Homo sapiens: one gene and its partners. Changing the gene in region 5 together with the main gene of any one other region gives a genetic interaction. Each region holds a gene or a part of one and is shown on either strand. Other genes may lie near its edges. The genes, in order: TBC1D3G, POLD1, PRPF38B, DDX21, RIT1, ILF2 and DDAH1.

Region 1 (4,300 bases), on a different chromosome or scaffold from region 5:
GATGGGGGCCGCCCAGGGTGGGCGACCGGGCCCTGACAGGAGTCCCTCAGGGAGTGACCACATCCCCCCGCCAGGGTCAAGGGAGCCTGCCCTGAGACCTGCCCGGTGTACTCTGGCTGCACCAGGGGCCCACCCCACTTGACAGCCCCAAGGCCCTTGCAGGTTCTGACCTCCCAGCATCCACCTGCCTCTCCCTGCACCCGAGCCACACACCCTGCGTTTCAGAAGTGGCACCGCTCGTCAGCTCCCTCCCGCCCTACCTCCCCAGGGATCCTCTGTCTCTCCATCCTGTGATCCCTGAGGGATGGGCTCCTGGCTGGGCTCCTCTTACCTGGCCCCAGATCCCTTCCCAGCACCAGACCCAGGTCTTTAGCCGCGAGCCCTGCTGCCTCCCTGGCCTCACCGTGAGATGCCCAGAACGGGGCCCTGCCCATCTTCTCCCCCGTTCTCCTAGGGCTACAGCCCCCATTGTCACCATGCCTTTTCCCCTCACGGGACAGTGAGGGCTGTAGCTCTAGGGGAATGGGGGAGAACAGGGGCAGGTGGGCCCTCAGAGACCTGCTGGACAACAGCCCTGAGGCTGGGCCAGGCGTCCCCTCACCCTGTGGCCATAACCCTTGCATCTCACCGGGGTTGTCTCCAAGTAGACAGGGCCAGACCCTCAGGCTGCCCCGCTCCTCTTGTGCTCACTTGCCGACAGAACTGCTGAGCGCCCAGGGGCCTGACCTAGCCCAGTCTCCATTCCCACCGGCTCCCTAGATGGGCCCCACACCTCTGGCCTAACAACCTCGGGCTGGACCTGCAGGGGAGTCAGGGAGGAGTTCTGTCCCTGGAAAGGAGGTTGACCCGACCTGGTGAGACATGTCCTGCGTCAGAAAGGCCTTTCTAAAAGCAAACCCATCCCTGAGCTGAGACAGGTGCTTTAGGGGTGAGGGGAGTGCAGAGGACTCACTGTACAATCCCCAAATGATCGACGTTGTTGTTGTAGCTTCGAAAAGGCTTAGGCCCCTTGTCCTCTGGCAGCCCAGCTCGGTGTCCCTGTAGCCCAGAGGGAGCCTTGGTGAGGGGTCCAAGGTAAAGGGTGCAAGGGCCTGGGGGCATTGGCCACCCGTCCCTGCCCTGTGCTCCTAGGGAGCCCAGGACCCTTTGACCAGGGCACACTGGAAGAGGCCTCCCTCCAAGAAGCAGACCGACTTGTACCTTTTCGTATTTCATAATGATGTCCTCTCGCTCTTGTGCCCACCAACTGCCCGCGACCTCTACCACGTCCATCCTGTGAGACAGAATTGTCTAAAGGTCACACTGTACGCGGCGGCTTCGGAGAACACCTGAACCGCTCTCGCCGGGCTCCCAGATGCTGGCTGGCTGCGTAACCCCCATTCCACCGCCGCCCCCAGGGAAAAAGGGGCCAGACCCAGTGGCCCACAGCTGCTCCAGTCTCTGGAGTCTCAAGTCCCAAGCAGGGGTGGGCATCTTCCCAAGGACTTGAGTACAGTGGGACCTAGACAGAGAATCCTGTTGTCCCCCAATGCCATGAAATGGGGACACACCGGCCCCAGCAGGTTGAATGGTTTCCACCTGCCAAGGGTGAAGGGCCCATGATGGGCTATTCCAGGGATGTGGAGGCAGACTGGGGTCAGCGACCAGAGGTCTCTGTGCAATCGGCCTCCTGGGATGCTCAGGGCCTCAGCGATGCCCAGTTTCCTACAGGGAACAAGATCTCTCCCGACTGCTCGGTTCTACTCCGCTCATCACTTTGGCTACCGTGGCTCTTCAGTCTGAACAGTGAAGCCACTTTAGGAATAACGCCTGTTGAGCAGGAGGGTGTTGGGTTTGGGGGATGAGGAAGATCTATTGTACGCATGGAAACCACGTCTCTCGCGGAGGGACTGTGGAGTCCACCATTCTGAGCCGTCCCAACAGGAGGAGGCTTCATTTTCCTGGGTCACTGAGGAAGAACAGTGGGTCCTTGGTCCTGGAGAACAGCTGGATGGACCGTCCCTCCTGGGAATACTCGAGGCAAAAGGAGGGCGAGGCCTCAAGAGGACCACGCAGAGCAAGAAATACCTGGGGAGAACCCTAGTGCCCGGACCCCTTTGAACACAAGGGAAGATAGTCTCCCCTCAGCCAGCCCTCCAGGGCTCCTTCATTTTCCACAGCTGCCCAAGGGCAGCAGGCTCCCCCGGACAAGGGACCATGTGTGTTCAGTGGGGCCCACAGCGACCATCAGGACCCAGCTTAGGGCACAGAGGTGTTCTGAGGACCGTCAGTGGATCTGTACCAGTGGCTCTATACCAGTGGCTCTGCCAGGACCAGGCTCTGCCCCATCGGGATGGGAAACCTGGGCAGATTTGGGATCTAGGGCAGGGAGGTCACAGGGTTCAGGCCTGAATTCCAGCACAGCACACGGCAGGGCTGAGAGCAAAACTCAGGGTCATGTCCGGATTCCCAGGCCGGTTACTGCCTCTCTGACCCCAGACGTCTCATCTGTCGAATGGGGACATTTGGGAACAGCACCCACTCTACGAAGCCACCATGGAGACGAAAGAGCCAATCGTCTACACGGGCAGTGTAGAACGGGCGCCTGGTGAGTGCTCAGGGATGACCCTCCTCGGTAGCTGCCCCACAGAGGCCAACACCGCCCGCACCGTAGCCACTGCCCCCAAGTCCGCCTGGAGGGAAGAGAGCAGGTCACGCTCACCTGATTCTGATGAATCAGCTGGCCTGGGTCATGCCTCTCAGGGAGAAAACCTTTGAGTCCACAGAGCTGCTCACAGATACCACTGCCTGTGTGTAACTGCTGTAGACCACTGAGGCAGACCAGAGAGCAGATAGGTGCTAAGCACCAGTGACATTCTGAGGTCATGGCACGAATCACAGTGGGGCCTTGCCCGGGTCAGCAGCACCCAGAGTCAGGGTCCTCCGCTGCCTGAGGCGTCAACATGCCTGCCTGCAATGTGTTTGTGCACGTGCGTGCACATGTGTATGTGGGTAAACACATCTGTGCACGTGTGTGCTGCTTCTCTGGCCAGGCCCGGCTGCCCCACTCATGTGTGCACCCAGTTCCTCATCACTGTCACCCCCGAGGCCCAGGGCCAGCATCAGAGCATCCATGGCTGCTCCCTAACCTCAGCCCTCCCTGCCCAGGGTGGTCCTGGGATACACATAGCGGTGGAGGGAAGTGACTGCTGCTGTTGGATCTCAGAATACAAAAGCTAGTACTATTACCTAATGGTCTTTTTAGTGTCTCTAATGGTATCGCTTTTTCATTTCTGATATTTTAACTGGGTATTTCTCTCCATGACCCTTGGATATTCTAGCTAGAGGATCCTGTGGGGAAAGTGCCGGGCACACAGTAGGGGCTCACTCTTCTAGACATGTTATCTAAAACCTGGTTCATCTGTCCTTCCACACAGGGCCTAGGGGATGCCAAATTCCAGGGGCCAGAAAGAGCTTGGGATAAAAAGAAACTTCAAGGGGACGGCTTTGACCTGGGCTGAGTCTGCCTGTGCCATCCAACTGGAGTCTCAAGTCCTGAGGCAGGACGTCCAGATGCCCCAGTGCAGGGTCCTCCTGATCAACACCTGCTCCCCTGTACTCATTAGCAACCTCACCCACCCTACTCTCAAAGCACACTTGGCTCTCGTATCCAGGAGCTCTGCATCTGTAGATTCAGCAACAGCAGATGGAAAATATTCAGAAAATAAATTGGACGGTTATGTTTCTATTGAACATGTGCAGAGTTTGTTCTTGTCATTATTCCCTAAAGAATCCAGTATCACGACCATTTATGTAGCATCTGCATTGTATTACACATCATGAATAATCCAGAGATGGTCTAATGTCTACGGGAGGATGTGCATAGCTGATATGTAAATACTAGGCCATGTTATGTCAGAGACTTGAGGATCCATGGATTTTGGCATCCCCGGGGACCCTAGAACTAATCCATGGATACCAAGGGATGACTGTATAAACTCACTCAGGAAGGCTTCTCATTGGAGGAAGGTCCCAGTTCAGGACACACAGGGACATCTCCCTGGACTACTGTCCATTCATCCATCCATTCATCCATTGTCTCCCCCCACCCCCCCATCTCGGACTGTCCCAGTGACAGCCCTAGCAAGAAGAGACAAGAAACAAGTTCACGTTGTCCAGTTTTGAGGTAATGGAAGAAGTTGCACCAGTATGAGAATAGTGGGTCAGTTTTCTACAGGATGCAGAAAGCATATCGGGCAGCCTCGGGGTGCGGAAAGGAGCCTGGCCTCTCTAGCAGCCACACAGGCCTGCAGTAGGATGG
Region 2 (3,500 bases), on a different chromosome or scaffold from region 5:
TAAATGGATTAAGGGCGGTGCAAGATGTGCTTTGTTAAACAGATGCTTGAAGGCAGCATGCTCCTTAAGAGTCATCACCACTCCCTAATCTCAAGTACCCAGGGACACAAACACTGCGGAAGGCCGCAGGGCCCTCTGCCTAGGAAAACCAGAGACTTTTGTTCACTTGTTTATCTGCTGACCTTCCCTCCACTATTGTCCTATGACCCTGCCAAATCCCCCTCTCCAAGAAACACCCAAGAATGATCAATAAATACTAAAAAAAAAAAAAAAATAGTTCTCAAGAATAACTGTAGAATGTGCTAGGAATGCAATATCCTGAGATAAGGAGGGACTGGCTGAAACAGCCCAGGCTCTGTTCCAGTCCCTCCTAGAAACAGGATGTCCTTCATCATTTTAGCCCAACATGTCATGTTGCCTCCAGAATATAAAACCCAAGATGGTCTGCTTTCCAGGTACAAATGGGGTACACACAAATGAGACTCCATCCTCCCGGGGCAACCTTCCTGAGTCTCGGGAGATTGGCTCACAATGAATCCTATGCTTCGGTTTTCCCTTGTTGCCTAGCTGTAAATAATAAATTTACTTCATGTAACTTGAAAAAAAAAAAAGAAAAGAAAAGAAAAAAAGAAATTATTGGCCAGGCGCAGTGGCTCACACCTGTAATCCCAACACTATGAGAGGCTGAGGTGGGTGGATTACCTGAGGTCAAGAGTTTGAGACCAGCCTGGCCAACATGGTGAAACCCTGTCTCTACTAAAAATATAAAAATTAGCTGGGCGTGGTGCCAGGCGCCTGTAATCCTAGCTACTCGGGAGGCTGAGGCAGGAGAATTGATTGAACCTGGGAGGTGGAGGTTGCAGTGAGCCAAGATCGCACCACTGCACTCCAGCCTGGGTGACAATGAGGCTCTGTTTCAAAAAAGAAAAAAAAAACAAAACAAAAAACAAAAAAAAAAACAGGCTGGACATGGTGGCTCACGCCTGTAATCCTAGCACTTTGGGAGCCCAAGGCGGGCGGATCACCTGAGGTCAGGGGTTCGAGACCAGCCTGGCCAAAATGAAACCCCGTCTCTACAAAAAATACAAAAAAATTAGCCGGGCGTGGTGGTGCATGCCTGTAATTCCAGCTATTCGGGAGGCTGAGGCAAGAGAATGGCTTGAACCCAGGAGGCAGAGGTTGCAGTGAGCCGAGATAGTGCCACTGCACTCCAGCCTGGGCGATAGAGCAAGACTCAGTCTTGGAAAAAAAAAAAAAATAAGAAATTATTTATAGCCTTGAAGAATATTACAGGGACACGTGGCAGATCTAAATAAGAATCGTCTATTCAATAACGTCACTGTCTCATGTTAAACTGCATGATGATGACAATGACACTGTAGTTCTGCAGGCGGACATCCCTGTTCTTAAGAGCTGACTGCTGGAGGCCAGGTACGGTGGCTCACGGCTGTAATCCCAGGACATTTGGAGGCCGAGGCAGGGGGATTGCTTGAACCCAGGAGTTTGAGATCAGCCTAGGCAACATGGTGACACCCTGTCTCTATAAACAATATAAAAATTAGCAGGGTGTGGTGGCACACACCTTTAGTCCCAGCTACTCGAGAGGCTGAGGATCAGCTGAGCCTGGGGAGGTCGAGGCTGCAGTGAGCTGTGACCACCCCACTGCACTACAACCTGCATGACAGAGTAAAATACTGTACCAAAAAAAAAAAAAGAGGCCAGGTGCGGTGGCTCATGCCTGTAATCCCAGCACTCTGGGAGGCAGAGGCACGTAGATCATAAGGTCAGGAGTTCAAGAGCAGCCTGGCAAAGATGGTGAAACCCCATCTTTACTAAAAATACAAAAATTAGCCAGATGTGGTGGTGCGCGCCTATAGTCCCAGCTACTCAGGAAGCTGCAATAGGAGAATCGCTTGAACCTGGGAGGCAGAGGTTGCAGTGAGCCAAGGTCGCACCACTGTACTCCAGCCTGGGTGACAGAGCAAGACTCCGTCTCAAAAAAAAAAAAAAAAAAAAAAAAAGAGTTAACTGCTGGAGTTTTCAGAGGTGAAGTATCATGATGACCACAACTTTCAAATAGTTCAGCCAAAAAAAGGACAAAAGGTACAGGTATATGCATGTGCTTGGATAAAGCATAAAGCAAATGAGGTGTCATGCCAACAGCCAGTGAATCTAGGCAAAGGGCCATGGCTGTTCACTGTACTCAATTTGTACCTTCTCTGCAGGTTTGAAACTTTTCAAAATATTAAGGGGGAAATATATAAAATGAAAATAGTAACAAATTTACAAGGTGGGCAGAAGAGTATGTAGAAATCTTTTTGCTTTTAATGCAGGGAGTATGTAGACGTCTTTTTTATTGTAATGCAGGGAGTATGTAGACGTCTTTTTTATTGTAATGCAGGGCATATGTATAAATCTATTTGCTTTTAATGCATCATTCTATAAGGAGAGCTAAGAAACTGGTTTCCTGGGGGACAGGGTAGAAGACTTCATTTGCTAACTGCTTTATTGAGCTATAATTCACATACTATACAATTCACCCATTTAAAGTATATATAGTTCAATGGTATTTAGTATGTTCAGAGTTAGGCAACCATCACCACAGTCAATTTTAGAACTCTCTCATCACCCCAAAAAGCCTAAATCCTTTAGCTCTCTCCCTGCATTCAGCCCATCTGCCCCCACCCCTGGCAGCCACTCATCTAACTTTCTGTCTCCATGGATCTGCCTATTCTGGGCATTTCCTATAAATGGGATCTTGGAATATGCAGCCTCTTGTGTCTGGCTGCTTTCTCTGAATGTGTTCATCGCTCATGTGTGTGGCGGCCTTTCGTCAGTGCTGTGTCCCTTTTTTGCTGAGTACTTTTCCGCTGTATGGCTAGAACACGTCTGACGTATCCCTTCATCAGTGGATGGACATTAGGGTTGCTTCCACCTTTTGTGAGTGGTGCAGCCGTGAGCGTGTGCAGGGGGTTTTGTGTGAGGAAGACTTTGACTGCGTTTGTGCTCTTTGGGTGACAACCGCGTACATGTGTGACTTACAGGAAGAAGCAAGCGTCGTTAGCGGCTCTGGCTTCGGGTTGTGCAAGTAGCCAGAGAGGGACAGGGAGTGATGATCTGCGAGGAGAGACCCGGGTGGGACAGAGGAAGCGCAGGGGCTTGTGGGAGCCCAGAGTCAGTGCTGAAGCTGGAGGAGGAAGGAAGGAGCTGACTGGCTGCCCTTGGTCAGTTGGCTGTGGCTGCGGGGGTGCGGTGGGAGGGACGGTGTCACCAGGGGCAAAACCTGGGCTCTTGTTAGTGGAGGCACAGCAGCATTAGGAAGGAAAGGCCCCTGTGTGTCCCCTCTCATTGGCCCTGGCACAGGATGAGAGCTTGGCAAACACTGTCCTCTGCCCCTCTCACGACCCTTCGGTAGCAAGCACTTAACAGAGATTCAGCAACAAAATGACACCACGTGCTCGCTGCAGGCCAGACACCAGTTTTCTCGATGAGTGAGACAC
Region 3 (3,500 bases), about 47 Mb from region 5:
ACATGTCTGTCTATTTCCTCAGCACCTTCCTTCCCATCTTTCTTGATTTTTCTAGGTCGGGTTTTAATCTGTTGATCAATATTCTTTTGAACTGGAACTGGAATTCTTGGAAACAAGGTAGAAAACCACTCCAGTTTTGTGAGAAAAGATCGTAGCATTTCTCCAATGGTCATTACACAGCCTCCACCAGCCTTCACATCTAGGTCCTACAGAAACACAAAAGATACCCTAGCCGTCAAAAAAAGTATTTCCATATATACATGAATATTATAAAAATATTACCATCTTTGGAATCTCAATACAAAAAAAACTAACAGAAAAATTTTATTTTCATATCCTGATCTGACAATGAATGAACAGAAATATTTGGGCTTAGTGTGTGCATGCAAGTGAGAACAAACCCTGCAGCCTCACAGGCATAAAGGGAACTGATCTCACTCAGTTAACAATATGAAAAAGCCCCTTACATTTCTAAACTATGCGGAACGATTGACTTAAATTTACATTCCACATACCTACTATGTATTTATTTCTGTGGACATATTTGCACACATCATATACCTTGCACCATAACCTAGCTACATATGATCTACTTTAGATAATTCCTGTCTAAAGGTTATCTTTTAACAGCTCTAATATAAAATGAAGCCCTAATAAAACTGGAAGCAATAGCAAACCAACTGCCATGAAGCAGTGAGGTTTCTAATTTAGTTATGTAGAAAATAAATAAATGAACAAATAATTGGAAACGCATAATCCATGATGACCATTGTCTCTGAAAAGGGTCATTACCGCATGAAGGCCTTCTTGCTATGCCCTCTCACAGCTCAGGACATGTTAGTCAGCTATTGTCAGTCCCAAACCTATAGTGCAAGCACACAAGGAAAGTGAGATTTGTTATCTAAACAGGAAAACAAGAGCTAAAGGTAAAACTGCTTGCACTCACACACATTTAAGTGTTCAGATATACAGTATTTCCAAATATAATCGCTGCAGATATCTAAGGAAGAAAACAATAAGTTAGCTTAAATAGAGGACCTCAGATTTGTAAACACAATAAAAAACATAAAATAGAGGCATCCAGAAACAAAACCAATACAACACCAATTATGAAGAGGAACATGCTTTTTTAAAGACAGAAGGGAGAAGCACTTCAGTCTGAAAAACTGATCTAAAGATAAAAAGACCTTAAAGATTGTGATTTAAAACACGTTTTGCTTCTTCTGAGTGAAGTAACTCAGTTAACAGGCAAAAAAAAAAAAAAAAAAAAAGAGAAAAATAAAAATTCTCCATGTCTAAATGAGATTTTTTTTTTTTTTAGGTGTGCATGTAATAACAAAACACAATAGATTTCCATTAGAACCATCCTTTAATTCAATAAATTCTTTGGATGAACTCTGTAAATAGACTACTGACACATAGCACTCAAAAAGTCTTATGAACCTTAAAACACAAAGTAGTAGACTGGGTAGACATAGGGACAATACAGCTCATCATTTCATTTTTGACATGTTGGACTTCACCATGCAAGTAAATTAATGCATATATGATATTTTGTTTTGTTTTGAGAAAGGGTCTTACTGTGTTACCCAGGCTGGAATGCAGTGGCAATGATCTTGGCTCACAGCAAATTCTGTCTCCTGGGCTCAAGTGATCCTCCCACCCCAGCCTCCCAAGTAGGTGGGACTAAGATGCATACCTCTATGCTCAGCTAATTTTTAAACTTTTTTTTGTAGAGATGAGGTCTCACTATATTGCTCAGGCTGGTCTTGAACTCTCGAAGTGTTGGGATTACAATGTGAGCCACCACGCCCAGCCAATGCATACACGATTTAAATCTAACTTAGTATTTCAGATTTCAAATTAGGGAGACTCGAATTACAATTTAAAAAATTTCTTTTTTAAAGGTGTGTGTGGTGTACTAGGAGTCAGAAAACTGGAATTAAAATTTTGTCACCTTGAACAAGTCATCCAAACACTTAGCCTATTTATGTAACACCCAACTCTTCAATTCTGCACTTCTATGCAAGTGGGAATACTGATATTTGGAAGAAGCTAGAGGGTGAAGAACTGAAATGTTCCAGAAGAAAAAAAAGCTACAATTAGTATTCTATGTGCATATCTTTTATTATCTGTTCGATCTTGAGCATGCCCCATCTTGAAAAGTCACTATTAACTATACAATTCAGGATCAATACAATACACAGAACATAATTAAGAAGAGAAAATTTTCCAATAGTTACCAAACACATTTAAACAATTTTAAAACAAGAAAATAAAACTTCAGAAATTTACCCTAAAATACATAAAAGCCATCAGGTCTCAGTAAAAGGACATTAATTCCAAAAGTATCTCACTGAAATAAATTTAACTACAGGAAGTTCTTGAAGACATTAAACCACCAATAAATAAAAGATAATAAAAATATGAGAGTAATCAGAAGAAAACAAATTATTACCCTTGTTGACATACCTCTTCATCATCAAGGAAGGATTCAAACCAGTCCCACAGATCTGTAGGGGGCTGTGTATATCTAGAATTACAAAAGACTATTATTAAACACATGTGAATTAAAATGAGATATTTACTGGAAATGTACATAAATGTACGCTCACCTTATATACATAAATCCAAGCGCTCTAATATATGGAGAGTCTGTGTGTGTTATAAGACCCATCACTTGCTTTCGAGTTAACTTCAGGGTAAATAATTTGTATAACAGGCAAAATGCTGTAGAAACAATTCCTCCTGTTCCAACACCTCGAACCTTTAGGGGAAACGAGTTAAGAAAAAGTAGTAAAATAATTAACGGACTCTTAACACCAATTGATTAATCCTGTTAGGTATCAATAACAATCCATAATCCAGAACTAAGGAGCATTAAAAAGTAACACTTTTCTAACCCTATTTCACTGAACACTTGAATTTGGATTAAAAAAATTGTCACTCAAGTGTATAATTGACAGGCCTCTAGTTCTCTAAATATAAACTTAGTTATTAGACACAGAAAAACTGAAAAATGCACGTACTTCTACTTACCCCTCCGCACATCCCTGTCTGGCCCGCTGTTTTCCTGCTTCCTTTCTCCCATGGTTCAACGTGCGTGACCTGAAAATAGAAAAGAGGAACACAACAAACATTCATACTTTGAATTTGTTTAAAAGCCTGATAAAAGTAAACCCAAGTCCATAATAGAGCAGCTCTTCCAAAATTATTTTGGCATTAAGTATATGTTTACTGATATTAAGTGTGTAAATCATTTTTGGAAAAACTGCTTAGACATTTAGACAGCACCCATAAAGCTACTAGGGTTTAACAAAACCTTAATAGCTTTGCAGAGGAGAAATCCCACTCAACTAGCTTTATAAAGAGCTGATATCTACATCTGGGAGTCAGAAAATTTCTATAGTCTCACTTGGTTGCAAAAACTATTTGGTAATATTTTAACTTTGATAATATTTGACAATTTAACTTATGGGTTGCTTAACATTTTCCTTTAA
Region 4 (2,699 bases), on a different chromosome or scaffold from region 5:
AGTTCTATATTGCCAAACATCATTCTCTTTTTGCTATATAAATCTTCTATTTCTAATTATTGACCAAATGCTTTACTGAAACTCCGCTTCTGGCCTTTGTTTTGGGATCTGTTACTTTTGTTGCCACCTCCTGATCGCTGTCCTCTCGGGCCTCTACTGCCTTCCCGCTGTCCTCTGAATCTTCTGTTTCCGTCCCGCTGTCCCCTGAAGCCTCGACTGCCTTCCCGCTGTCCCCTGAAGCCTCCATATCCTTCCCGTGGTCCTTCCAGTTCTGGTTGCTCTGTGGCCACAGAGAGCTGCCAGCGTCGTGAATCATGCCATTTCTCCTGTTGAGAGAATGTTTTGTTTTTGTGTGCTTTAATTAGTATTCAATTTTTAAAAAGCATGAGAAAAACAAAATATTTGCCACTTCTTCAAAGAAAAGGTGATAACATAAGTGCTTAACAAGTCACTGGTCAAAAATAACACTGGCCACCCATCATGGTCCAAAAGCCAGTGTCCCTGAAGTGTGGGAAAACACAGTTTCATTATGAGAAATAGCCCTCATCACTACTTCATTTATTAAGTTATTAAACCATTTATTCAACTCAATTGCTACAGGGTATCTACAGCCAAAGGTAATAAAACAAATATATTAAGCACACATTTCTCACAGTATTGAATAAAGATGTAACAATTTTAAATGTCTATGAAAACCTGTAGGCTGGACGTGGTGGCTCATGCCTGTAATTCCAGCACTTTGGGAGGTGGGTGGATCACCCGCGGTCAGGAGTTCGAGACCAGCCTGGCCAACATGGCGAAACCCCCGTCTCTACTAAAAATACAAAAAATTAGCTGGGGGTAGTGATGGGCCTATAATCCCAGCTACTTGGGAAGCTGAGGCAAGAGAATCGCTTGAACCCGGGAGGCGGAGGTAGCAGTGAACCGAGATTGCACCACTGCACTCCAGCCTGGGCGACAGAGCGAGACTCTGTCTGAAAACACACACACACATGCACACACACACACACACACACAAAATCTATATACCATATATAAGTGTTAAAGGGTGGGGAGAGCTGGATATCGTTCACAACTTTGTATAAAGGAAATATAGAAACCAGGTGGGTTCAACTACAAAAATATCAGAATTAAAAAGTTAGGGGGGAATATTCCAAAATTTAATTATCGATTATCTCTTACTAAAGGAACCAGAACTATTGTTTCCCAATCTATTATTCTCTATTTTCATAATTAACATTCTACAATTTAGGTATGTTAACTTTAAAATCTAAGGGAAAAGAATACCTGTATTTCTGTTACTGATGCGGTAGGTACATCAAAGCAAACACCCTAGAAATCAAAGCAAATGGAAGTTAATCCAACCAACGCACATGAAAAATACTCCCTTTAAAAGACCACGTATTCTTTAAAAAAAAGAAAACAAAAAACATAAAGCAAAAAAACCACCAGGTATAATTTTAGATGAACTTTAGACCAAAGCTAATACATTATAGCTGCCAAAAGTACACTGCAGAAAGACAAGGAACATTGAAAAAAAGAACCCCAAATGATTTAGAACTTTCTAACTATAGACAGAGTCTTAGCTATTACACTGTGCTAACCCCCTAGTGGCTATTAGCTACATTTTATTGCTGAGCAAACAGGCTTGGAAAGGTTAGCTGACTTGTCTAAGGCCCCACAGCTATTAAATGGCACAAGTATTTAAAATCTAGTCTGTATGGCTCTAAAACCTATAGTCTAAACTATATACTGCCTTCCATCAGAAAAGCAATGCCAGCTATTCAGAATGACCTAATTAAAAGCAGAAAAACAAGTGATCTTCTATTGTTGATTTTCTGGTTTTTCTTAATTCAGCCTTCTGTAAGAGTATGAAAAAAATAATACAGGACACCATCTTTTTTTTTTCCCTCTTAAGATAGGGTCTTGCTCTACTGCCTAGGCTGGAGTGCAGTGGTGCAATTAACAACTCACTGTAACTTTGAATTCCTACAGGTGCATGCCACTACATCTGGCTTTTTTTTTTTTTTTTTTTTGGTAGAGACAGGGTCTCACTACATTACCCAGGCTGGTCTCAAGAATTATCTTCCCAGCTCAGCCTCCCAAAATACTGAGATTACAGGTGTGAGCCATGGCACCTAGCCAGGACACCATCTTTAATATTAAGTGCCATCCTCTCCAATCAAGGAAATCGTCTAAAAATATAGTCAAACTATGTGTTAACTAATACAGGCACTCCTCTCCCTGCTGTCTTCAACTGCAATATTTTATAAGGAACACCCCTTTCACCCCAAAATTTACCCAATCATAACATAGGTATCATCACCTACTGGTGGATTTTGCCATTCATGGGAATCTTCGCTTACATATTTACGAAGTAGAGTATAATCCCAGGCATTCACTGGGTATAGAGGTAATTAGAAAACAGTTTTTGCCTTTGAGTGTTCTTGAGGCTCTCCATTAGCAAACACAGCAAGGTAAAAGTTTACCTGCATAAACATGTGTCCTAAAGACTCTGAAGTACAGATAAAGACGCCCCTAACATTGCCTGGTAAGATTTAAGGCTAAGCAAAGTCATAAAAGCTACTTTGGAGGAAAAGATTTATATATATATAAAATTTTTTTTTTAAGACGGAGTTTCACTCTTGTTGCCCAAGCTGGAGTGTAATGGCGCGATCTCGGCTCACCGCAACCTCTGC
Region 5 (4,042 bases):
ATACAAAAAATTAGCCAGGTGTGGTGGCGGGCGCCTGTAGTCCCAGCTACTTGGGAGGTTGAGGCAGGAGAATGGCGTGAACCCAGGAGGCGGAGCTTGCCGTGAGCCGAAATCGCGCCACTGTACTCCAGCCTGGGCGACAGAGCGAGATTCTGTCTCAAAAAAAAAAAAAAAAAAAAAATCATTCTTTCACTTTTCATTTAGTGTATTTACTTATAACAACTTTAAGTAACCCTTGATCAGGTAGCAAATGTGCTGTCATTTTCCATATGTGTTTTTCCTGTCTCCTCCCAAGAGGTAATCTCTTCAAATGAAGGGGGATTCCATGGCATGCTCCCTAGCACTTGACATGGGTGTCTTGTTCATGGTGGGCACTCAAATTTTTTGAATTCATATTTTCCAGAATATCACATCTCATGGTTATGTTTTTCTGAAAACAACTCTTTTGCAATGATTCCAAAAACTCTACCCACTGATAGGGAAGCAAAGGAAAGCCCAAGTTGTTTAAAAGTTTTGTATTATGTCATACAAACTGTCTTCACATACAAGTGCATTAAAAAAATTATCCCCCCCTCCTCCTCCCCAAACATCACAGTAGACCAATTCTTGCTAATATATGACAAAGTTAAAACATATGTCCCCTCTGAATTCTAAACAGCTAATTCTAGACACTAACATCTGGATCTTATAATTTACCGGTCTGGTATGGACATGAACAGTTCCAGTGCCTTTCAACTTATCCCTGAATTTTTCTCTTCTCAAAGTTCTAGGCAGTAATTTTAATGCCCTCAAATTAGATAAAGCTGATTACTTAGAGCTTATAAATTAGCTACACTTTATGACACTAAGAATAGAGCTATGACTTATGCATATCATACCTGTCAAGCTACCTAGCACCACGAATAGAACTAATATTAATGGATGGACTAATACAAGGATCTAATATATGACAGTGATAGTCTTAAAAACACCGATTTGTTATTTTCCTTATATATAATCCAAATTCCTTTCTATCCTTCTGGCAATGTTTCTACTGCCTGACTACCTTAAATAACTATATAGTGTCAATTTCTTGCTTGGGCCAGGTGGTGGCTCATGCCTGTAATCCCAGCATATTGGGAGGATTGCTTGAGCCTAGGAGTTCGAGATCAGCCTGGGCAACATAGTGAAACCTCATCTCTATTTAAAAAAAAAAAAAAAAAAAAAAAAAAATATATATATATATATATATATATATCTCTTAATGTTAATAACAATTCCCTAGGTCACTAGTAATAAGAAGCTATGGGCTTTAAACTTAAAAGGTGCTAAACCAGTTTAAATGTAAAACATTCTCATAATAGAATTGCACTGTATTTCTTTTCTACTTTGATGCTTTTCCAAAGTGCTATAGTTCCTGTGAGATTTGTGTCCTGCACAGAATCAAATGCTAGGTCTTTCACTTTTGGATGGCTGAGTACCATAAAACATGATTTATTTGGTAACAAAAATGTTTCCAGGAGTTTAAAAAGGGACCACTACTCAGAGCTAAAAAAGTTCTAACAGTCACTTTTTAAAAAAGCTAGTTTATCATTTGTTTATAAAGAAAAACACAACTCTGTCCTACTTCCTCTAATAAAAATGGAAAATATTAAGATGAGCTGTGTGCTTATAAAGAGGTGCTACACAAGTCATCTTACGTTTCTAGTCAACACAAACATTGCTTCAGTGACACTTAATATTCAATACATGATGCATTACTCTTAGCATTTTTGCATTTACTCTCCGCATATAACAAGGTCAGATATCAAAACAGTCCTGATCTTAGACAACTCACTACCAATATTTAAAGCTGTTTCCTCCTAGGACTACAGTTCCTAAACTATGCACAGGGAGCAAAGTGGTATTCCCTTAGGATAAACTTGGTCAAGGCTCAGATAACCCTGAGATGAACTTAGCAAAGTCCTTGTAAAGAAATCTTCAGATGGGAAACTCCACCTATGTGAATTTTAAAGCTTTAAGACTGACCCATTCAACAGAAATAGCAGATTTTCTCAGAGCACTGAGTCTAGTGATTGTCCACGTCAAGGAGGCACACACACAATTTTACCCACACCCCTGATGTCTCTTCTGTATGGAAAATGCAATCAGTGATGAAGGGCCGAAAAAACATCTTGCCAGCTGTAGCTCTTTTACAGAGCACAAAGTGGGAGGAAGCAATGAATATAAATGTGTTGGTGTGTGCGTCTGTGGGGAAAAAATAAACCTGTACAAGGCAATGGCTGATCCAACTATGAATTTTGATTAAACACGTTTAGTAATACAGTTATGATTCCCAAAATGTCTACCTTTGAAGGTAAAAAAAAAAAGAAAACCCTGAAATGAAGAGTAAAATAAGGTTCCCAGGAGAAACCTTCATCACATTTTATGCTTCTGGCTGTTCTCACTTATCCCGGTGAATTTGGGCCAAATGTGTACTTCTTAGAAAAGCGAAGCTTGTACTGAGAATACTGTTCTGAACCTACCTTTTTAAGTCCCTGCAAACATATAGCCCAACTTTCCCAAATCTCACCACTCCATAGTCTGCAACAGGTGTCAGCCTCACAGGTATCTGCTGAAATTTGGCACTGATCTCATTAGCCCCAATTTCCCTACATGATTTTTGTTCTGTCTCTAGGAAGCATAGTGTGAATAGAAGAGACTGAGGTCTTTCTCTGGGATAGTCCCAGGAAATTGAAATTAAAGGATAATGTGGAGTGCAGAGCCAAAAACTTCCCTTGTGAACTTAGTCAAACACACATGGTATACATATTCTCCTGGGTATAAACAAATTTACATTAATTAATAGCGCAACAGAACCCAAAACATTGGTAGAACAAATTCTAATGTGACAATTTAAAAGCAGACAGTGCTCCACTGGGTTAATAAATCATACTTAACTAAGAGACAATACTTTAAATACCACATCATTAAAAACTCCTAGTAGGCATGTCCCTCTTATCAGTTAAGTGAAAGAGCAAGCACCATACTCAGTACTGCAGGTTACTGGACTGCTTTGATACAGCACTGCAGTTCACAGATAAACACTTCACATCTTCTCTTCAAGTTACTGAATCTTTCTTCTTCCGGAATGGTGATTTTAGCCTCTTCCATACACTGTTTTTGGGCTTAGATTTTTTCTCCATGGCCAGTACTGCCTCCTTTTCTTTCCTACGTATCTCCCGTACAAGGGCATGGAAAACATCATCAATATAGTAGCGGTATGCAGCAGATGTCTCAAAAAAGGGACAGCTGAATTCTCGGGCCAAGGCCAATCCTTCTTCCTTGGTGACCTTTAAGGGCAAAATGTGAGAAAAGATAACAGTGAAAAACAATTAAATTGTCCAAAAACCTGAATGCACCACCACCTTAACACAAAGAAAGCTTCTCAATTCTGGAGGTGTTCAAGCATACAGCACTAATTTTTGTAATTTTAGGCTAGATTACTTCTAAGGTTTCTTATTCTGCCTTCAAATGATATGATTCTATTTCTAGTCTACTTTTTTTTTTGAGACAGAGTTGCGTTCTTGTTGCCCAGATTGGAGTGCAATGGCATGATTGTGGCTCACAACCTCGGCCTCCCGGGTTCAAGTGATTCTCCTGCCTCAGCCTCCTGAGTAGCTGAGATTACAGGCATGCGCCACCACACCTGGCTAATTTTGTATTTTTAGTAGAGACGGGGTTTCTCCATGTTGGTCAGGCTGGTTGTAAACTCCTGACCTCAGGTGATCTGCCCACCTCGGCCTCCCAAAGTACTGGGATTACAGGCGTCGGCCACTGTGCCCGGTCTCTAGTCTATTTTTAAGATACTTTTTGGAACAGGGAATAGTTTTAGATATCAAATACACAATCTTAATTTTCCCCATACTTTTTATTTTAAGAAAGATAAATAGGCTGGGCTTGGTGGCTCACACCTGTAATTCCAGAACTTTGGGAGGCTAAGGTAGGAGGATTGCTTGAGCCCAGGAACTTGAGACCAAGCTGGGCAATATGGTGAGACCCTACTTTTACAAAATTTTTAAAA
Region 6 (4,048 bases), 2.2 Mb from region 5:
CAAACCTGAAGCCATTGATTCAAGAAGCTCAACAAACCTCAAGTAAGATTTTTTTTTTTTTAAACGGAGTCTCCCTCTATCGCCCAGGCTGGGGTGCAGTGGCGCCATCTCAGCTCACTGCAACCTCCGCCTCCCGGATTCAAGAGATTCTCCTGCCTCAGCCTCCTGAGTAACTGGAATTACAGGCGCCCGCCAGCACGCCGGCTAATTTTTGTATTTTTAGTAGAGACGGAGTTTCACCATGTTGGCCAGGCTGATCTCGAACTCCTGACCTCGGGTGATCCACCCGTCTCGGCCTCCCACAGTGCTGGGTGGCCACAAGCCACCGCACTCGGTCCGCTTTTTGTTTGCTTGTTTTTTAAAAATTAATAATATTTATTTTAATCTGGATGGTGGTTACGTGGCCAGAATACGTTTAGACTTAAGATGTTTACGTTCTGCTGTAGTAAATTAAATATCGAAAAAGTACTTATGGAAGGGAGGTAGGTGAGGGATAAAAGTCTACAAGTTGGGTTCAGTGTATACTGCTCGGGTGATGAGTGCACCAAAATCTCACAAATCACCACTAAAGAATTTATGTAACCAAGCTGGGCGCTGTGGCTCACGCCGGTAATCCCAGCACTTTCGGAAGCTGAGGCGGGTGGATCACCTGTTTCCATGGACATGGAAAACCATGTTTTCCACACTAATTCAATCAATATACTCCTCTCCTATCTAAAACCTGTTTCTCCTGCTTCGAGTTTGTAGACGTGCAGTGTTCATAGTTGCCTAAACTCCCTTTTCCCCATCAACTTCAACTGCTAGTGGCAAAAATAGCTGATATTGGTTGCATTTTTGAGGTAGGAAAATTGGCAAGATATTTTCCTTCACTAAAGAAACGTAGATTACGTATGCCGTACAGGGCAATGAAAAAACTCCGATAGCAGAGGATGGTTTCGATCCATCGACCTCTGGGTTATGGGCCCAGCACGCTTCCGCTGCGCCACTCTGCTATCTAGAACTAAAATTTCTCATGATTGTTATAGAACACTACGTAGTCGTTGTCCTGACTTCTTTAGTGCCACCTAATGTCTGATCAAAAATTCGTCATTACTATAGAACCAGTTCTTATTGGCTAGTTCCTGACACAGTAGGCGTTTTTTATTGGTTCATAAGCCCGGTTTGACAAAGTAAGCCAATAGGCATAAGCGATGGGGTAAGGCGGGAGCCAATCGCACCGGGTTTTATTGGGACACGCCGGCAAGACGCCTCTTCAGTTGTCTGCTACTCAGAGGAAGGGGCGGTTGGTGCGGCCTCCATTGTTCGTGTTTTAAGGCGCCATGAGGTAAGTGGGTCGAAGCGGTCGAAAGGTTTCAGGTATTCGACGGAAAACTTTGTGAACGTGGGCCGAAAGAAGTCGGAGTATCAGAAAGGGCCATGTATCCGGGGGCTGGCCAAAAACCTGAGAACTCCTGGTCTAGGATAGTGGGAGAGATGGAGGCCGGTAGAGGCGGGGAAACTTGGGCCCGGGATGGGGTTCGGGCCCAGGAGTGGGGAGGGGGGTTCGACACCTTTGTCTCTGAAGGGTTGCGATGAGGGGGTGTCCTCAAGCCCCTGGAGGAGCTCCCCACCTTTCCCCCGCCCCCGTCATCCGGGCTGAGAATGCTGGAGCGAGCCGCATTCATCCTCAGTGCGAAGGCCTTGACATTAGGACACGCCCGATAAATGTGTACCTTAGTGAAGAAATGAGCAATCTTTAGCCTCCGAAGTATTAGGATTCGTGTGGCCCAGGATTATGGGTTATTAAGTGTAGGGCTCACTGAGCCCCATCATTACTTGATGGGGGTTGGATTAACTTAGAGGAGGTTATGGGGGTGTAACTGGGCACCATTTGGAATGGGGACAAGTGTAAGTGTGAGTGGGGTCTCTTGCCTACCGTTGGGAGGTTCCGAGGGATGAAAGTAGCCAACCTAAGATGATATGGCCGGTGGGTATTCCTTCAATGAGGTCAAAATAAAATCTGCATTTCTAGGGGTGACAGAGGCCGTGGTCGTGGTGGGCGCTTTGGTTCCAGAGGAGGCCCAGGAGGAGGGTGAGTACCAGCTTTTAGCATCTCTGCACTTGGTTGTTAGTTTCTGCTTGTCATCTAAATAGGAGTTTTAGAGTAGACTAATGTCACTTGGTTTTGCGAGAGCCAACTGTGGTCTTTTCCTGCACTCCTGTTAAATGAATTTGGCCCCACTATGCTAAGAATGATTCTTTCCCTCCCCGGAGACTTTGTCACTCATTCTGAGGACTGACATGTTTTCAAAATTGTTGGCGTGTTATTTACATCTCGCTTGATTCCTACCTAGGGAATAATTTGGCTGTTTTTCATGTTTTAGGTTCAGGCCCTTTGTACCACATATCCCATTTGACTTCTATTTGGTGAGTACCTTGGGTTAATGATACACATTTTCTGGTCACTGTTGAAATGGAGCCCAGTATCTCCCAGTTAATGAAGTTAGATGGTGGTTGAAGAGGGCAGACACAGTGCCTCACGCCTGTAATCTCAGCACTTTGGGAGGCCGAGGCAGATGGATTACCTGAAGGTCAGGAGTTTGAGACTAGCCTGGCCAATATGGTGAAACCCCGTCTCTACTAAAAATAAAAAAGTTGGCTGGGCATGTGTCTAATCCCAGCTACTTGGGAGGCTGAAGCAGGAGAATTGCTTGAACCCGGGACGCGGAGGTTGCAGTGAACCAAGATGGCACCACTACAAAAAAAAAAAGATGGTTGAAATAGGGAGGGAAAGTGATTTGTGAAAAGATTTGGGGTTTTGAGTCAACTGTGTGTTGCTTTACATACAGAAACAGTGTAAGCATGGTGGGGAGAATAATTCCTTGGCTACTGTTGGCATTAAACATGATTATAATCTTTGTTCTGAACAAGTAATTGTATTTATGGTATATCTGTTACTATAAAGATAGTGATAGCTTAAATTATGGCTATTCCAGCTTTTATCCTTGTTTGAACTTTTTATTTTTTTTGAGACAGTCTCACTCTGTCACCCAGGCTGGAGTGCAGTGGTGCAATCTTGGCTCACTGCACTGAACCTGGGAGGCAGAGGAATCAGGACCTCTGCCTCCAGGGTTCAAACGATTCTCCTGCCTCAGCCTCCTGAGTAGTTGGGATTACAGGCACCTGCCACCATGCCCAGCTAATTTTTGTATGTCTGTTTAGTAGAGACGGGGTTTCACCATGTTGCCCAGGCTGATCTTGAACTCCTGACCTCAAGTGATCTGCCCACCTCAGCCTCCCACGGTGCTGGGATTACAGGTGTGCGTGACCCACTGTGCCTGGCCTTTGAATAAATTTTTTTTTTTGAGGCAGGGTCTCACTCTGTTGCCCAGGCTGGAGTTGCAATGGCGCGATCTTGGCTCACTGCAACCTCGCTTCCTGTGTTCAAGGGATTCTCTCACCTCAGCCTCCCAAGTAGCTGGGATTACAGGTGTGAGCCACCACGCCCAGCTATCACCTCAGCCTCCCAAGTAGCTGGGATTACAGGTGTGAGCCACCACGCCCAGCTAATTGAACAAATTAAGCAGTAAAAACAAGTGTAGAATTTTCTGTTTTTAACCTTTTTCTGTCGTAGTAATAGAAAAAACAATCTCTCCTGTATATTATCTTCGGCAAATAGAATGTAGTTGTTTACTTCTGGTTTAGTGTGAAATGGCCTTTCCCCGGGTCAAGCCAGCACCTGATGAAACTTCCTTCAGTGAGGCCTTGCTGAAGAGGAATCAGGACCTGGCTCCCAATTCTGCTGAACAGGTATGTTCTTTTGGCTGTCTTCCAGAAATGTCTCTAAAGCAGTTAAAAGTATTGGTAAAGAGTAACTGTTGGTAAGGTTAAGAATGGTGTTAACAGAGCCTGAAATCCACAAAGGGTTTAATTGTTCTCCTTATTTCTCATTGTGGGTGGAGATAGCCAGGTGGATATATAAACAAATTACATATGCATTCTTATTTTTACTGGGGACAAAGAGTTGTTCTCTTCCCATATATTCAAGGCCAGAATGAAGTGTTTTTAA
Region 7 (3,500 bases), about 71 Mb from region 5:
TAGTATCCTAGCATAAAATAACTTTAAAAACAACACAAAAATGAACTCTGCACAAAATTTAAAATATTGATACCTCATCCTTACCTCCTCAACATAATCAAAACTATCAAAAAACAACACTCCTCCCCCTAACAACAAGAATATCCAAATTAAAAACCCACAAAAACAAATATTATTTGGGGTTTAGTCATGTAGACTCTTTCTACTCTTTATCAATATCCATACAGTTTTAAGGAATCTGCTGAAATATCATGCTAGGAAGGTATAACATGATCTTTTCCACAATCTGGTTCTAATCTACCTTTATGGTCCCATTTACTTTTACTTTTCAGTGTTTGTATGGAAATGTGCTTCATATTACTAGGCAGACATGCCCACTCAGTCATGGGGGCACTGGATAGTAAGATTTATGGTATGAAAAGCAGAAGAGAGACAGCATGCTTCCTGTAGAAAATTCATTCCTAAGAGTGGCACATAGTAAGCCCTTCCTGACTCACCAGTCAGGTAAATCATTCACTTCTAGTGTGGAATATGTCAAGGGTGGAGAGAGGCCAAGAGCAATCCCATAATGGAATACCCTTCACATGGAATGAAACATCAGGAATGGGGATGAGCTTATGCACTGTATGAAAGGCTGAGACATACAGATGAACAGGTCACAGACCCAGTTTTCCAAGATTACAGTTTAGTGGAGGAAACTGACAGAAAAATAGATAATTATATTACAATAAGAACTAGCAGGGCACCATGCCAAACATTTTACATTTATTATCTAATCTCAAACTTCTATTTTACAGATGAAGAAACTGCACTGAGAGAGGTCAAATAACTTGCTTTAGGTCACATAGGTAGATTCAAACCCAGATCTGTGCAACTCAAAACGTTTCTTAATCATCTCACTTTGCTCTTTCTCAACTTCTGCAGCAGGAAACTACCTCCTACAAACTACATAACACCTACTTTTTCACATTCACTTGATACTTATTATTCATTCTCTGGCAGTACCATTAATTCTTTTCTTGTATGTAATCCTGTTATGACCTGCTACCGTCTGGTATAGGTAAAGGACTTAACTGGACATCTCTCTTGCACTTTTGAATTTAAATTGTTCTTGAAGGGATAGGCCCATAGAGGGGCTCACCTATGGAGTGGGTCTTTCTTTACAGCCCTGATTAGAAACCTTAGATCTAATCCAACATGTGGGCAATTAAGAAGTTAAAGACACTCCTAAAGATTAACTTTTCTAAGAAAATTAACAACATATTCAATTTAGCCCTCTTTATAAAATGGATATGCCCAGAAATAATATGAAGACGCTTGAGAGAATAAAAAAACAGACCCAAGTAGCTCTTTTGTTACGAATTGCAATTTAGTTCTTCTTATGCAGATTTTCTTTTTGGCTGCTTCCAAAACACAATAATAGCAGCTTCCATTTATTATTGTGTGCAAGGGAACAAATGAAGACCGCCTGAGCCCGGGAGTTTGAGACCAGCCTGGGCAACATGGCGAAACCCTGTCTCTACAAAAAAATTAGCTGGGTGTGGTGGCACACACCTGTAGTCACCTCCTCAGGAGGCTGAGGTGGGAAGATCATAGAGGTTGCCACCAGCCGAGATAGTGCCACTGCACTCCAGCCTGAGCCACAGATAATCTGTCTTGGAGTCTAATCCTTAGTCTTAAAAACCATAAAAGACTAGACCTACCATATTCTCACAATTACTTCTTCAGCTTCCTTCTTTCTAAGGCCTACGTTAACATGTAATCTAGTAGTGTTGCAGGCTTAGCATCCCTTCTACCTAGATCCCCTAGAGAGATAATTGCTACAAAGTTCCCAAAGTTTTTGGAATAAGGACAAATTTTACTATGAGTTTTTGTGCAGTTTTGCTCTCTTCAACCAGACTGCTACCTCCTTGAATGCAGGTCCAGGCATAATGAGGTGGACAGAGCATGGGCTTCAGAGTCAGAAAGGTCTGGGTCTGAAGCCTTGCTCAGCCACACACTAATTGTGTGACTTTGGGAAAGTCACATATGCCCTGTGAGCCTCAATTCCCTCAGCAGTAAAATGGGATGGGAATGCTATACCTATCCTCCACAGGGTAACTCTGAAGATTATTTAAAAAAAACCCCAAAACAGATAATGTACATAAAATGCTTAGCACAAGCTTCTAGCAGATATTAAATGTGTAATAAAAGTCGGTTCACTTCCCTCTTTGTTTCTTGCAAGTCACTTGACATATAGCAGGTGACCAAAATATGTTTGCACTAACTGGTTCATTTCTTCATTCCTTTCACCTTTTTAAACGCTACAGAGAACCTCAGGAGGGCACTGTGATGAACTGTGTGGTCAATCACATGGGTAAACAATTGAATTCCCTCAGAGAAACAAGGTATGGTCTATGTCCAGAAACAGAAATACAACTCATTATTTTTAATGTGAAAAAACATGGCTAAAATCAACAAGGCCAAGGTTTGTCTGTTTTTCAAAGCCATACAGAAGGGCACTATACTCTGTGGTCCTAACTCAAATGACTCTGGATGACAAAGTAAGACAACAGGGGGTTGGATCTGGAATTACCTGCAGAGTATGTGGCACCTAAGGGCATTCACAGAAAGAAAGAAAAGAAAAACTTTTGTGTATATCAAACCGAACACATAAGCCTCTGTCAGGTTGTGACCCCAATTTAGTAAAATAGTCCATAAACCCAATGGGCAGATTGACTTCTTCATAGTAGAGTGGGGCTGCCTCGATATGCAAGGTGGCAGTTAGGATTTGTGAAACTTCTAGACAATAGCTTTTGGTCAGTCTCACAAACGTGCTTTTTTCCAGGTGCAGGGAATGGGATTCCACTATGTCTAAATCTCTGTTTATTATGTGCTGTTGAGGGTGGACCAAGATGGCCAGTCTGCTCATGTTTGCAGTCAGAACTGGACGGTCATCCTGTCACATGAATTGGACCTAGTTTACCCAAGAAGTTCAGAATTTCTTCCAGACAACTGGGGAGGCAGTTCTCTGAGCCAGAGGTTTACTAAGTAGGACCCCAGTGGTTTGAGGACCTCAGAGAGATCCTTAGAACATGTATACACAACCACTGCTACCTGGTCAACCTAGACACAAACAAAACAAAATCTAGAAAATCTATTACTCACATTGACTTACTTTTCTAAGCAATTGGGAAAACTGTGTGTGGCATATTTTGGCCCACACATTCAGGCTAAGTGCTCCCACCACTCATAATCACCAGATAACTGCCAGTTGGCTTTCCATTTTAATTTGTGATCTGCAGAAGCTTCATTGTACTCTTTACCCACAGATAAATAAATCACCCATGTCTCTTAGTACCAGATGAATTGAAAGAGAAAGAAACATGGCAAGACTACATCTCTTAGGCCTGACTTTATTCACTGGATCTAGCGGTCTGGGCAAATTCCCCACCTCTCAGTGTGACTCATGCATGTCCGGAGGTGACTACAAAGCAAAAGCATGGAATGTCATACATTCC

The links.
Region 1: changes in RIT1 (region 5) and TBC1D3G together harm fitness more than expected from each alone (negative genetic interaction), as found in Homo sapiens cells (one large-scale study listed by BioGRID).
Region 2: changes in RIT1 (region 5) and POLD1 together harm fitness more than expected from each alone (negative genetic interaction), as found in Homo sapiens cells (one large-scale study listed by BioGRID).
Region 3: changes in RIT1 (region 5) and PRPF38B together harm fitness more than expected from each alone (negative genetic interaction), as found in Homo sapiens cells (one large-scale study listed by BioGRID).
Region 4: changes in RIT1 (region 5) and DDX21 together harm fitness more than expected from each alone (negative genetic interaction), as found in Homo sapiens cells (one large-scale study listed by BioGRID).
Region 6: changes in RIT1 (region 5) and ILF2 together harm fitness more than expected from each alone (negative genetic interaction), as found in Homo sapiens cells (one large-scale study listed by BioGRID).
Region 7: changes in RIT1 (region 5) and DDAH1 together harm fitness more than expected from each alone (negative genetic interaction), as found in Homo sapiens cells (one large-scale study listed by BioGRID).

What each region holds. Positions count from the first base shown.
Region 1 is NC_000017.11:36,322,384-36,326,683, reverse strand, and holds the start of TBC1D3G (TBC1 domain family member 3G), read right to left. Parts: upstream 2,801-4,300; 5' UTR 2,702-2,800; intron 1,274-2,701; 5' UTR 1,273-1,273; coding exon 1,201-1,272; intron 1,039-1,200; coding exon 953-1,038; intron 1-952. UniProt on the Homo sapiens protein: Acts as a GTPase activating protein for RAB5. Does not act on RAB4 or RAB11.
Region 2 is NC_000019.10:50,387,347-50,390,846, reverse strand, and holds part of POLD1 (DNA polymerase delta catalytic subunit), read right to left. Parts: intron 3,188-3,500; exon of another isoform or gene 3,043-3,187; intron 1-3,042. UniProt on the Homo sapiens protein: As the catalytic component of the trimeric (Pol-delta3 complex) and tetrameric DNA polymerase delta complexes (Pol-delta4 complex), plays a crucial role in high fidelity genome replication, including in lagging strand synthesis, and repair.
Region 3 is NC_000001.11:108,695,310-108,698,809, reverse strand, and holds part of PRPF38B (pre-mRNA-splicing factor 38B), read right to left. Parts: intron 3,109-3,500; coding exon 3,040-3,108; exon of another isoform or gene 3,030-3,039; intron 2,768-3,029; coding exon 2,616-2,767; intron 2,534-2,615; coding exon 2,473-2,533; coding exon of another isoform or gene 2,459-2,472; intron 1,250-2,458; exon of another isoform or gene 1,001-1,249; coding exon of another isoform or gene 961-1,000; exon of another isoform or gene 953-960; coding exon of another isoform or gene 947-952; exon of another isoform or gene 793-946; intron 207-792; coding exon 1-206. UniProt on the Homo sapiens protein: May be required for pre-mRNA splicing.
Region 4 is NC_000010.11:68,980,170-68,982,868, reverse strand, and holds part of DDX21 (nucleolar RNA helicase 2), read right to left. Parts: intron 1,333-2,699; coding exon 1,288-1,332; intron 327-1,287; coding exon 57-326; 3' UTR 1-56.
Region 5 is NC_000001.11:155,897,308-155,901,349, forward strand, and holds the end of RIT1 (GTP-binding protein Rit1), read right to left. Parts: intron 3,312-4,042; coding exon 3,081-3,311; 3' UTR 501-3,080; downstream 1-500.
Region 6 is NC_000001.11:153,668,194-153,672,241, reverse strand, and holds the start of ILF2 (interleukin enhancer-binding factor 2), read left to right. Parts: upstream 1-1,248; 5' UTR 1,249-1,319; coding exon 1,320-1,324; intron 1,325-2,011; coding exon 2,012-2,071; intron 2,072-2,363; coding exon 2,364-2,406; intron 2,407-3,665; exon of another isoform or gene 3,666-3,684; coding exon 3,685-3,789; intron 3,790-4,048. UniProt on the Homo sapiens protein: Chromatin-interacting protein that forms a stable heterodimer with interleukin enhancer-binding factor 3/ILF3 and plays a role in several biological processes including transcription, innate immunity or cell growth.
Region 7 is NC_000001.11:85,325,660-85,329,159, forward strand, and holds part of DDAH1 (N(G),N(G)-dimethylarginine dimethylaminohydrolase 1), read right to left. Parts: intron 1-3,500. UniProt on the Homo sapiens protein: Hydrolyzes N(G),N(G)-dimethyl-L-arginine (ADMA) and N(G)-monomethyl-L-arginine (MMA) which act as inhibitors of NOS. Has therefore a role in the regulation of nitric oxide generation.